Linked DNA regions of Homo sapiens. The protein of the gene in region 3 purifies or fractionates together with the protein of the main gene of each other region. This does not show direct contact. Each region holds a gene or a part of one and is shown on either strand. Other genes may lie near its edges.

Region 1 (3,036 bases), about 80 Mb from region 3:
ACAGTCATGTTACTATATTAAAAATGGTAATGCTATTTATTACATAGAGATTGCTACTTTCTTCTATAGAACCGGTATGAGTAGGCAGGTTTTTTTTTTTTTTTTGAGACAGGTTCTCACTTTGTTACCCAGGCTGGATGGAGTACAGTGGCGCGATCATGGCTCACTGTAGCCTTGACCTCCTGGGCTCAAGTGATCCTCCCAAGTAGCTGGGACTAGAGGCGTACATCGCTATGCTTGGCTAATTTTTTATTTTTTGTAGAGATGGGGTATCCTCATGTTGCCCAGGCTGGTCTCAAATTCCTGGGCTCTGATCCCTCTGCCTCCCAAAGTGCTGGGGTTACAGGTGTGAGCAGGCCAGGCAGATTTCTTATTAGAACTGTTTTATGACCAAACTTTTTGTTTCTGGCATGTGTTAGGAGTATGTCACTCCCCACTGGTGTGCAGCAGGTAACCCCTTCTCTCACCAGCCTTCAAACAATGAAAGCCAGTCCGTCTCAATCTTTTGAAAGGACTAGACTATCACATATTCACACATGAAAGAGCAAATTGTTAATTAAAATTATAAATTCTATTAACTGTATTCAATACATACAAAAAGGCCAGTTTTTATTCTAAAATAAAGAACATTTATTATCACAAGTTGGATAAAAACACACAGCTTTTACAAAAATGATTTTTGATAGAAAAATATGTTTGAATACACTGTGATATTTGTAGGAACACCACACTATTGCTGTATCTCCAGCTAAAGCTTCAAGGAAACTCTATTTCTTATAATCAAAATATCCACTATTTACCACAACCCGTCTTTGGAAAGAAGTTCATAGTGTATTCTGAACAAACCAAAGCATTTACTCGGAAGTTACATTCCCATGCCTGGCAGTCACTTGTGTATGTTTAATACAGTTACACATGATGTAATTACAGAATGGCGGCGCTGGAAGGGACCTTGTAGATCATTTAGTTGGCACCCTAATTTTACAGAGGGGGAACTAAGGCCAGAGTTGAGAGATGTCCTCAGGATACCTGAGTCCCATTCCAGTGTTCGTTCAGTAATTCATAAGGAAGTCATCATAAAGGTTTAAAAAGAAAACGTTAATGACTCGCTCCCTTTATTCTTCTGTGCTGAGAGTATCATTCTGGTTTATTCAGATTAAGAAAGAAATACACTACTGAAATGGTATGAAACTCACTGTCAAAGGGCACTTAGGTCCGTTGGCTCCGTTTCCCACAGTTCCCCAAATGAACAGGTGGTACAAGACTCAGGCTTTCCCCTAATTACTTACTTGGGTAAAGTGACTTGGGTAAAATGAAAGATACAGCCAGGCGCTGGGCTCATGCTTGTAATCCCAGCACTTTGGGGGGCCAGGGCGGGCGGATCACGAGGTCAGGAGTTCAAGACCAGCCTGGCCAACATGGTGAAACCCCGTCTCTACTAAAAATACAAAAGTTAGCTGGGTGTGGTGATGGGCACCAGCTACTCAGGAGGCTGAGGCAGGAGAATTGTTTGAACCCGGGAAGCGGAGGTTGCAGTGAGCCGAGATTACACCATTGCACTCCAGCCTGGGCGACAGAGCAAGACTTACTTAAGTAAGTAAGTAAGTCAGTCTCAAAAAAAAAAAAAAAAAAAAGACAGATACAGCTATCATTGCAATGATACTGTGGTCTCATCACATGAGCTAGTTTTACAGGTAACTGTCATTTGAGAGAACGAATGGACTTTTCTTGTCTTTTGATAGGCTCCATGACAATTCAAAAGGTGAAGGGATTGCTGTCACGTCTTCTCAAAGTTCCTGTGTCAGACCTTCTGTTGTCCTATGAAAGTCCCAAAGTAAGTTGCCCAGCAAAATACAAAGTCAAAGTCAAGCTTAGTCCTCGTATTATGACATTAAACTGTCTCTAGATAGCAACAGTTTGATTCTAAATGGAGACCATGGGTCTGTTTGTTTGATTTTAAGGGTAAGCTACTGCCTGGGGACGGGGTGGGGGAAGAGTATGTGTAGCATGCTTTATCGGATCTGTCTTAATCACATCCTTCCCCACCTTCGTTCTAATTTTAGAAGCCGGGCAGAGAAATCGAGCTGGAAAATGACCTAAAGTCATTACAGTTTTATTCTGTGGAAAATGGAGATTGTCTATTAGTGCGATGGTGACAACCAACTAATAAAATTTAAAGACCACACTGCTTATCGTGTCTGGGGTTCACCGGAAATAAATGATTCACTGGAACAATTCTACTGTCAAAACAAAGGGGGTTTACAACTTGTCCTAAGTATAACAAGGGATGTATTTTTTGTTGGGAAGTGACCATTTCTAGGCTTATACATAATAGCAATAATAAAGGCTTTGAACCTACTAATGATTTTCTGATCTTATTTCATATTTATTTTTACAGCTCATCACTGCATTTCATGATAAGATTTAAATATTAAATAGAAAGAAACTAGCTAGCCTAATAAAATCTGAACACAGTTAATATCTGTCATAAGACTAGTTTTAATGGAATTCTCTATTGAAACTACTATTTTAAAGGGTTACTAGAAATGATTTGGTTGGTCATTTTGGGAAATGTCCCTTAAACTTGGGGAGACATCCTCTACTATGTATAACAATATGCTATTATCTGTCTTCTCAGTTGCACTATTTCTAAGAGTACTTAAATTAATCACATGCTTTTCCCTACAATTATACCTAAGCTGAGTATATCTTCTTCTGTGATAACCAGCTTTGATTGAAATGTACTCATATTAGGTAAACATTAGGCAATGATAGGAGGAAAGCAAAACTAATTCTTTCAAAATGTCAACAAAATTTAGAAATATCCTTCCCGATGGCACTAAAACCCTGAGAGGTATTTGCTTTTATTCATACTCACACAACTTTAGCATTTAAAAACTATGAGTACTAAACTGTGACCTTCAGGATTTATGTTAGATGGCAGAAAGAAAATTTGGGTATTAGTCTACCATATAAATGAACTTCTTTAAAACCAAGGTTCAGAACTGAGAATCATATTGGTTCCTCTTCAAGTTA
Region 2 (3,654 bases), about 92 Mb from region 3:
GGAGAGCAGGTGGGAGTTCAGGCGGAAGCTCTTCCCGCAGGCACCACACCGGTAAGGCTTCTGGGCCTCGTGGCTCTCTAGGTGCCCATCCAGGTCCTCGCTGTCGCTGAACAGCTCCCCGCACACCGAGCACTCGTGCGGCTTCTCCTGCTCCCTGCGGCTCCGCAGATGCCGGATGAAGTTGACCCTCCAGCGGAAGATTTTCCCACAGTTCGGACACACGTAGGACTTCTTGGAGGTCTGCACCTCGCCTCCGGCCTCGGTGCTGCTCCGGTGGGAGGCGGGGAGGCTGCGCTGCTTCTCTGTGGGGCTCCCCAGCTCTTCTGTGCAGTACGGGCCATGCTGGGAGTCCTCGTCCCCAGAGCTGGAGAGAACGATCTCGATGGTCACTTCTTCATCCAGGCTGTTCTCTAGAGATCGCGGGTTGCCGCCAGCTACAGGAAGGCAACATGCAGGTCAGCGACGCTGCACAGGCCACATCCCAGCCCCTATGACCGCGGCGGAGGAACACTCAGCTTGGAGTTTACAAACCCGTGTTTTTACAATGGTCCTCGGTGACCGGGGCGGCCTGGCCAGCCCTGCAGGGGCCACTGGTGTAGCCTGTGAGGAAGAAATCTTCAGCATGGGCCCCGCTGTGTCCAGAGCATGCTGGGCACCTTGCTCTCCCTCTTCCCAGCCATTTTCCCTTATCTCCACCCCCAACCCTTTTGTTCTCTACCCACGGAGACCACCCCATCCCCCCAAGCTCTAGGAGTCTGTATTTATCTGGGTAAAGCCTTGACCATTTACAGATCATGCACTTAACAAGGCATGGGGGAAAGCTCTATCAGGATAGTGAAAGGACTTGAGAGAGGAAGACTCTACAACCTACACATATCATGTGCTGGGCACTTGCATGCTCCAGGGACTGTGCTAGACTTGACATGCACATTCCTATTTGCTCCTGGACGCAACCCGATGACCTATTGGTTGCCATGTTTACACATAAACTAAGGTGATCTGTGCCAGGAAGGAGGGCTGAAATGCTACTCAGCCTTGCTAGGCTGCTCAACAGTCCCAGACTGCCCAGAGTCCTGGGTCCCCCACAGCTCCCCGGCTCCCAGTAGCACCGCATTTCTGAGGCCACAGGTGGTGATGGATAAAGCTGCTCTGGACTTCCTGCATCCTGAGTCTGTGATGTTGGGAAGGTGGAACCACGGGGCGGGGCTGGGTGGACAGTGCAGAGCCCGGCCTGAGGTCCCGGCTTATGGAGCAGAGCCCACCATACAGGTGGCCTGTTTCCTCACTGCTGTGAAATGTAGAACTCAAATCTAGAACTTGGGGGGAGTGAACCAGGCCCTCCCAGATAAGAGTAGGAACATGGTTAGTCTGGGCTTCATGACTGTGGGGAGGAGAGCCCTGGCTAGTCAGAGCAGCTCAGGACAGGAGAAGTTGGACAAACAGAAGCAGGGCAGGAAGACACAGAGGCTATGGAGAGCAGAGAGATAAAGGGCAATGGTGGAAGCGGAGGGGGCATTTGTCCCTCAGTCACAAGGGGGTCGGGGGAACATGAGTCTGGGAGTGGGTACTGAGTCTGCCAAGAACCCACGTAGTATAGGAGGGAAATCATCAGATGAAGACAGAGATTGTGTTTGTGTGTGTGCATGTGTTTTTAATTTTTTGTACAGATGGGGTCACATTATGTTGCCCAGGCTGGTCTCAAACTCCTGGGCTCAAGCGAGCCACCCATCTCAGGTGATCCACCTGCCTCAGCCTCCCAAAGTGCTGGGATTACAGGTGTGAGCCACTGCGCCCGCCGAGAGGCTATGTTTGACGCTTATCTCGACTCTTGGTTTTCGAGCTGCAGGAACCTCGTTCCAGCCAGACAGCTTCTCTGAGCTTGGGTCATCTCGTCTACAAGGTGAGAATGACAGTGGCAGCCCGTTGCTCTAAGCTGCTGGTGGGGCAGGTGAGGTCATGTGTATGATGTACTTTGTGGACCTCATGGGGTGGAGACAAGAGCAAGGTGTAACTTTTACCAGGCTGCCGATGACAAGGTACTTGATCAGCAGTTGACTTCTGTTAATGGACTTGGGTGGAAGAAGAAAACAAAGTGACAAGGTGGACCGCTAAGATCTCTTACTTGTTAACTGGGCGAGGAGATGGAATTATGAGAGCAGACAGTGCATGTTATGGGCGAAATTGTGTCCCCCTGAAAATTTACATGATGAAGCCCTAACCCATAGAGCCTCAGAATGTGATTACTTGGAGATAGGGTCTTTCAAGAAGTAATTAAGTCAAAATGAAGTCAGATGGTGGGGCCAATCCAAAATCACTGGTCTTCTAAGAGGAGGAGACTGGAGGCAGACTTCAACAGAGGGAAGGACCCTGTGAGGACACAGCAAGATGGGAGCCGTCTCCAAGACGAGAAAGGCCTTGGAAGACACCAGCTCTGCTGAAGCCTTGATTCTGGACTTGTTGCTTCTGGAATTGTAAGAAAGTAAGTTTCTGTTGTTTAAGTCACCCAGCCTGTGGTACCTTGTTATGGTAGCCACAGTAGACTAACATAGACTTTGGCACCAGGAAGTAGGGTGCAGCTAAAACAAAGACCAAAAACTGTCGAAGTGATTTTAGAACTAGGTCATGGGGAGAGGCCAGGAGAGTTCTGAAGTGCATGTTTAAAAAGCCTTGAGGAAGTGGCTGGTAGAAATACGGACGTTATAGGAAATTGGAGAAAAGGAGATCCTCCAATTATAAAGTGGCAAAGAATTTGGCCAAACCATATTCAACTGTTCTGTGGAAACAGAAATTGTAAGTAAGGAACTCGGATACTGAGCTGAGGAGGTATCGAAGCAAAGTGTCAAAGGCAAAGACTAGTTTTTTGCCGCTTATAGTGAAACGTGAGATGAGAGAGATAAACTGAAGAAGGAATTGTTGTAGCAAAAAGGAACCATGACTTCAAGATTTGGAAAATTCTGTCTATCCATACGGCAAAAAATAAGAAAGCGTGCACTGGAGAGACACCAAGAGTGTGGCTGGCTCATCATTTGTTAAAGAGATTCTGGGTATGATTCACGGATCCAATCAACCATCTCAACAGAAGCCAGGAACAGAGATGAGGTTATCCAGGAAGGTCTATGGAGGACACCCTCGTCTGACGGCCTGCAACCCTGTGGACTGCATGGAGGGCAGGGTTTCTGAGTATTATATACCAGCAGAAACACTGCCAGCTGGAACTGAAAGGAAAAGAGATGGGATGAAATAAAAGAAGGCTAGGACTTCTGGGATTCTACAAACTGGCCGATAGATCTATCTGGCTATGAATATGTACTATCCTTCAAGAAAAGGGAAGAATGACTCCAAAGGTGGCTCAGAGGTTACAGGACTGCCACTGTCATCATGGGACCAGAGAGTACAGGCTCAGGAGGTGAAGTCATTTCCTTCTGAGTTCCAAAGAGCAGGGCCAGTAGCCTGCTGGGCCTGGAGAACAGAGAACTGAGCCAGAGGTTATTGCTGAGCCTTAAAATCCCATGGAAATGACCTGCTAGATTTTTTTTTTTTTTTTTTGAGATGGGGTTTCGCTCTTGCTGCCCAGGCTGGAGTGCAATGGCATGATCTTGGCTCACTGCAACCTCTGCCTCCTGGGTTCAAGCAATTCTCCTGCCTCAGCCTCCT
Region 3 (3,654 bases):
AGTAGTTCTAGTTTTTAAGACATTGGTTGGCCTATCTTATCTTTTTTCACTAAATTGGAAAATCCCTAAAGGTCTAGCTTTCAGATGGAACCCAAGCTCTCTGCTTAGTAGTGCTGTTAAGTTCAAACACAGGACTAATTACAGGGACTATTCTCTTTGCTTTGTTCCACTTATGGCACAAACTGCATCCTGACCTCTCGCCATCGACCTAATGATTATATGCTGCTACAACAGAATAAAGTGCAGATGCAAATCCACCACAAAATGAGGAAAAAATTAAAGCCTCTACTTTCTGGATGCTGTAACACAAGTGCCAACTTTAGGCAAAAAGGTCAGCACGTATGTTTCAGACTCCTTACTGCAGGTGCTTCAGGGTTTGCTCCACTAATGCCTAGGTGACTAACAAATTTTCAGTCACATTTAGCAGATATTAATGGCACATAAAAAGAACAAAAGGGACAGACTGGATATTACAATATAGGGTAGTTTGTGTGGCTGGCCACATTGAGTCCTACATACCTCTCCAGCACCACTCACCCGGAGAAGTGGATATGGATGCCAGCTACTGTTTTTTCTCCCTTCCCAAACAGATACAGCTTGGCCTACAGCTGCACTGCCCCATAACAAGGAGACTTCACTTGACACCTAACTCCTGACAGGACTCTGCATCCTTACATCAGTAACAGAAGCTGGCTGGGGATGAAAAATTGTTAACTGCAACTTCTGAAAACCTTTTCAGAAATAAACTCTTCCTCTATTCCAAATCTCAAGGTCTTCAACTAGCCTACCGTAGAGCTTGAGGGGTGTTAAAGTTAGCTTGAGGCTCAGCCACACGCTCCTCCTCTTCTGGGCCATCATCTTCCATGTTGGAGAATCCCATCTCATCTTGGAACTGTGGGCAAAGGAAAGGGAGGGTTTTCCTGGGGAATGGGCTTTTGAATGTTGCTCCAGTGTTGGGAAGGAAAAGTGAAAACTATAAACAATACTTTAATAATGCTGGCACCCAGAAAGAGCCTACATCAGAACCTTTCTCACTTCAGGACTCCTACAAACCCACATATGGAATGACTATTATGCCAGGAAAGAAGTTGCTCAACCAGTCAACTTGTATCAGTAAGCACAGAGCTAGGATAACTCAAAATGATCAATTTCTTAAACAGAAATATCTTTTTAGACAAATTTATGGAAAAGGTAATTATTTGTGTGCAAAATACTTTAAAACTAGTTGGCAATCTTTAAGGACACACCAAATGACAGTAGGGGAAGCCATCAAAAGTTTTCAAGGGGCAAGATGTGCTGGCTCACACCTGTAATTCCAGCACTTTGGGAGGTTGAGGCAGGAAGATTACTTGAGCCTATGAGTTCCAGAACATGGCAAGACCCTGTCTCTACAAAAAAATAAAATAATTAGCCGGGCCTGTAGGTGTGTGCCTGTAGTCCCAGCTACTCAGGAGGCTTAGATGAGAGAATTGTTTTGAGCCCTGGAGGTCGAGGCTGCTGTGAGCTGAGATTTCACCACTGTATTCTCCAGAGCCTGGGTGACAGAGCAAGACTTTGCCTCAAAAAAAAAAAAAAAAAGCTTCAAGGAAAATTTTAGTAAGAATAACCTACATGTGGATAATCAAGAGTCTAGCAGTTAGCAAATTTCTTTTGTCATTATATTCTTTCCCAGGTAGACTAAAAGGAGAATTGGTTCAGTCCCTCTTCTAGAAGGAGCATCACAGAGATCAAAGGACACATTTTGTTGGAGAACCAACTTACAATCCCATGTTCTCACTTGAGGATCATTACTCACAGTTTCAAACAGATCTTCCATCAGCTCATTTGCTTCCTTTTCTGCAAAAAAGCCAAACGTTGTTGGTATAAATTAGATTCATTTTACAATATGGAGGAATTCCATGTAGACAATGTATGATGTTTTCAACAAGGCATCTGACGAATTCTTCATATCTATCCTTATTCCTGAGACAGGGTCTCACTCTGTCACCCGGGCTGGAGGGCAGTGGCTTGATCTCGGCTCACTGCAATCTCTGCTTCCCAGGCTCAAGCGATCCTCCCACTTCAGCCCTCCAAGTAGCTGGGGCAACAGGAGTGTGCTGTCATGCCCGGCTAATTCTTCCATATTTTGTAGAGATGGGTTTTCCCCATGTTGCCCAAGCTGGTCTTGAACTCCTGAGCTCCAGTGATCCACCCACCTTGGCTTCCCAAAGTGCTGGGGTTACAGGCATGAGCCACCACGCCCAGCTATCCTTCATTCATTTATTCAAAAACATTTATTGAGTACTTACTATGTTTCAATCCCTGTTTTAGATGCTTGGGATATATGAGAGAATGAGAGAGAGAGAGAGTTCTAATCTCATTGAACTTAAATTCTAATAGGAAGAAGACAAGGAGAAAATGTGAGCTAGATGATTTTTTTTTTTTTTTGAGACGGAGTTTCGCTCTTGTTGCCCAGGCTGGAGTGCGATGACACGATTTTGGCTCACTGCAACCTCCGCCTCCCAGGTTCAAGCTATTCTCCTGCCTCAGCCTCCCAAGTAGCTGGGATTACAGGCATGCACCACCACGCCCAGCTAATTTTGTGTTTTTAGTAGAGATGGGGTTTCTCCATATTGGTCAGGCTGGTCTCAAACTCCTGACCTCAGGTGATCCGCCCACCTCAGCCTCCCAAAGTGCTGGGATTACAGGCATGAGCCACCATGACCAGCCCAATGATTTTATAATTAGATGGCCTATCCAAACCCACACAATACTGAATGGAATCAAGAGACAAGTCTCCCAACCTGGGCAAAATGTCAACATATCTCTAAAAAAAAATTTATCTGGGCTTGGTCGCACATGCATATAGTCCCATATACTTGAGAGGCTGAGGTGAGAGAATCTCTTTGAGTCCAAGAAGCAGAGGCTGTAGTGAGCTGAGACCGTCCCACTGCATTCCAGCCTGAACGACAGAGCAAGACACTGTCTCCAAAAAAAAAAGAGACAGACAGAGACAAGTTTCCAACAGTGTTTCATAGGACTCTATCTTTGGACCCGACCTATTCAAAAACTCCATCAGTGAATTAGAAGACCAAGAGAACATACTTAACAAATCTGTAGATGATGTAAAGCTGTAAAGCTGAAAGGGACTGCCAATCCAATTGATGGAAAATTCAGAATCATATTTTCTCAAATCAACTGGATGTAACACGTAAGGATAAATTTAAAGTTCTACATTGAGGATTTTTTTTTTTTTTTTTTTTTAAATAGAGCCAGGGACTTGCTATGTTGCCCAGGCTGGTCTTGAACTCCTGGGCTCCAGCGATCCTCCCACCTCATCCTCCCAAAGTGCTGGGATTACAGACATGAGCCACCCCACCTGGCAAGATCTTATATGTGTATTCAAGATATTACACAACTCACTAAGTCTCCAGATGAAAACCAGAATCTCTAAATATAGTTTGACAGTTTGACAATGCCCAATGACAGACTAAATGAGAAATTAGGAGGCAGCTTGATTTTTTTTTATTTCCTCAGAGATCTTTGTTCTGAGTTCTGACTCTTGTTCTACAAATATTCAAAGTCGAAATGATTATCATGTTAATGGGTAAAGAGCTTCAAATCTTTGGCTATCTCATTTTTTTTTAATTTTTATTCATTTGTTTTACCTTATGT

The links.
Region 1: the proteins of YY1AP1 (region 3) and B3GALNT2 purify together in Homo sapiens (affinity purification with mass spectrometry; 2 studies listed by BioGRID and IntAct, with this or other methods). This does not show direct contact.
Region 2: the proteins of YY1AP1 (region 3) and ZNF496 purify together in Homo sapiens (affinity purification with mass spectrometry; 2 studies listed by BioGRID and IntAct, with this or other methods). This does not show direct contact.

What each region holds. Positions count from the first base shown.
Region 1 is NC_000001.11:235,446,607-235,449,642, forward strand, and holds the end of B3GALNT2 (UDP-GalNAc:beta-1,3-N-acetylgalactosaminyltransferase 2), read right to left. Parts: 3' UTR 2,157-3,036; coding exon of another isoform or gene 2,064-2,156; 3' UTR 1,835-2,063; coding exon of another isoform or gene 1,743-1,834; 3' UTR 584-1,742; downstream 1-583. Other genes in the region: TBCE (tubulin-specific chaperone E), read left to right, coding at 1,743-1,834, 2,064-2,156. UniProt on the Homo sapiens protein: Beta-1,3-N-acetylgalactosaminyltransferase that synthesizes a unique carbohydrate structure, GalNAc-beta-1-3GlcNAc, on N- and O-glycans. Has no galactose nor galactosaminyl transferase activity toward any acceptor substrate.
Region 2 is NC_000001.11:247,300,843-247,304,496, forward strand, and holds part of ZNF496 (zinc finger protein 496), read right to left. Parts: intron 435-3,654; coding exon 1-434. UniProt on the Homo sapiens protein: DNA-binding transcription factor that can both act as an activator and a repressor.
Region 3 is NC_000001.11:155,678,621-155,682,274, forward strand, and holds part of YY1AP1 (YY1-associated protein 1), read right to left. Parts: intron 1,837-3,654; coding exon of another isoform or gene 1,817-1,836; coding exon 1,796-1,816; intron 1,389-1,795; exon of another isoform or gene 1,308-1,388; intron 1,210-1,307; exon of another isoform or gene 893-1,209; coding exon 789-892; intron 694-788; exon of another isoform or gene 488-693; intron 1-487. UniProt on the Homo sapiens protein: Associates with the INO80 chromatin remodeling complex, which is responsible for transcriptional regulation, DNA repair, and replication. Enhances transcription activation by YY1. Plays a role in cell cycle regulation.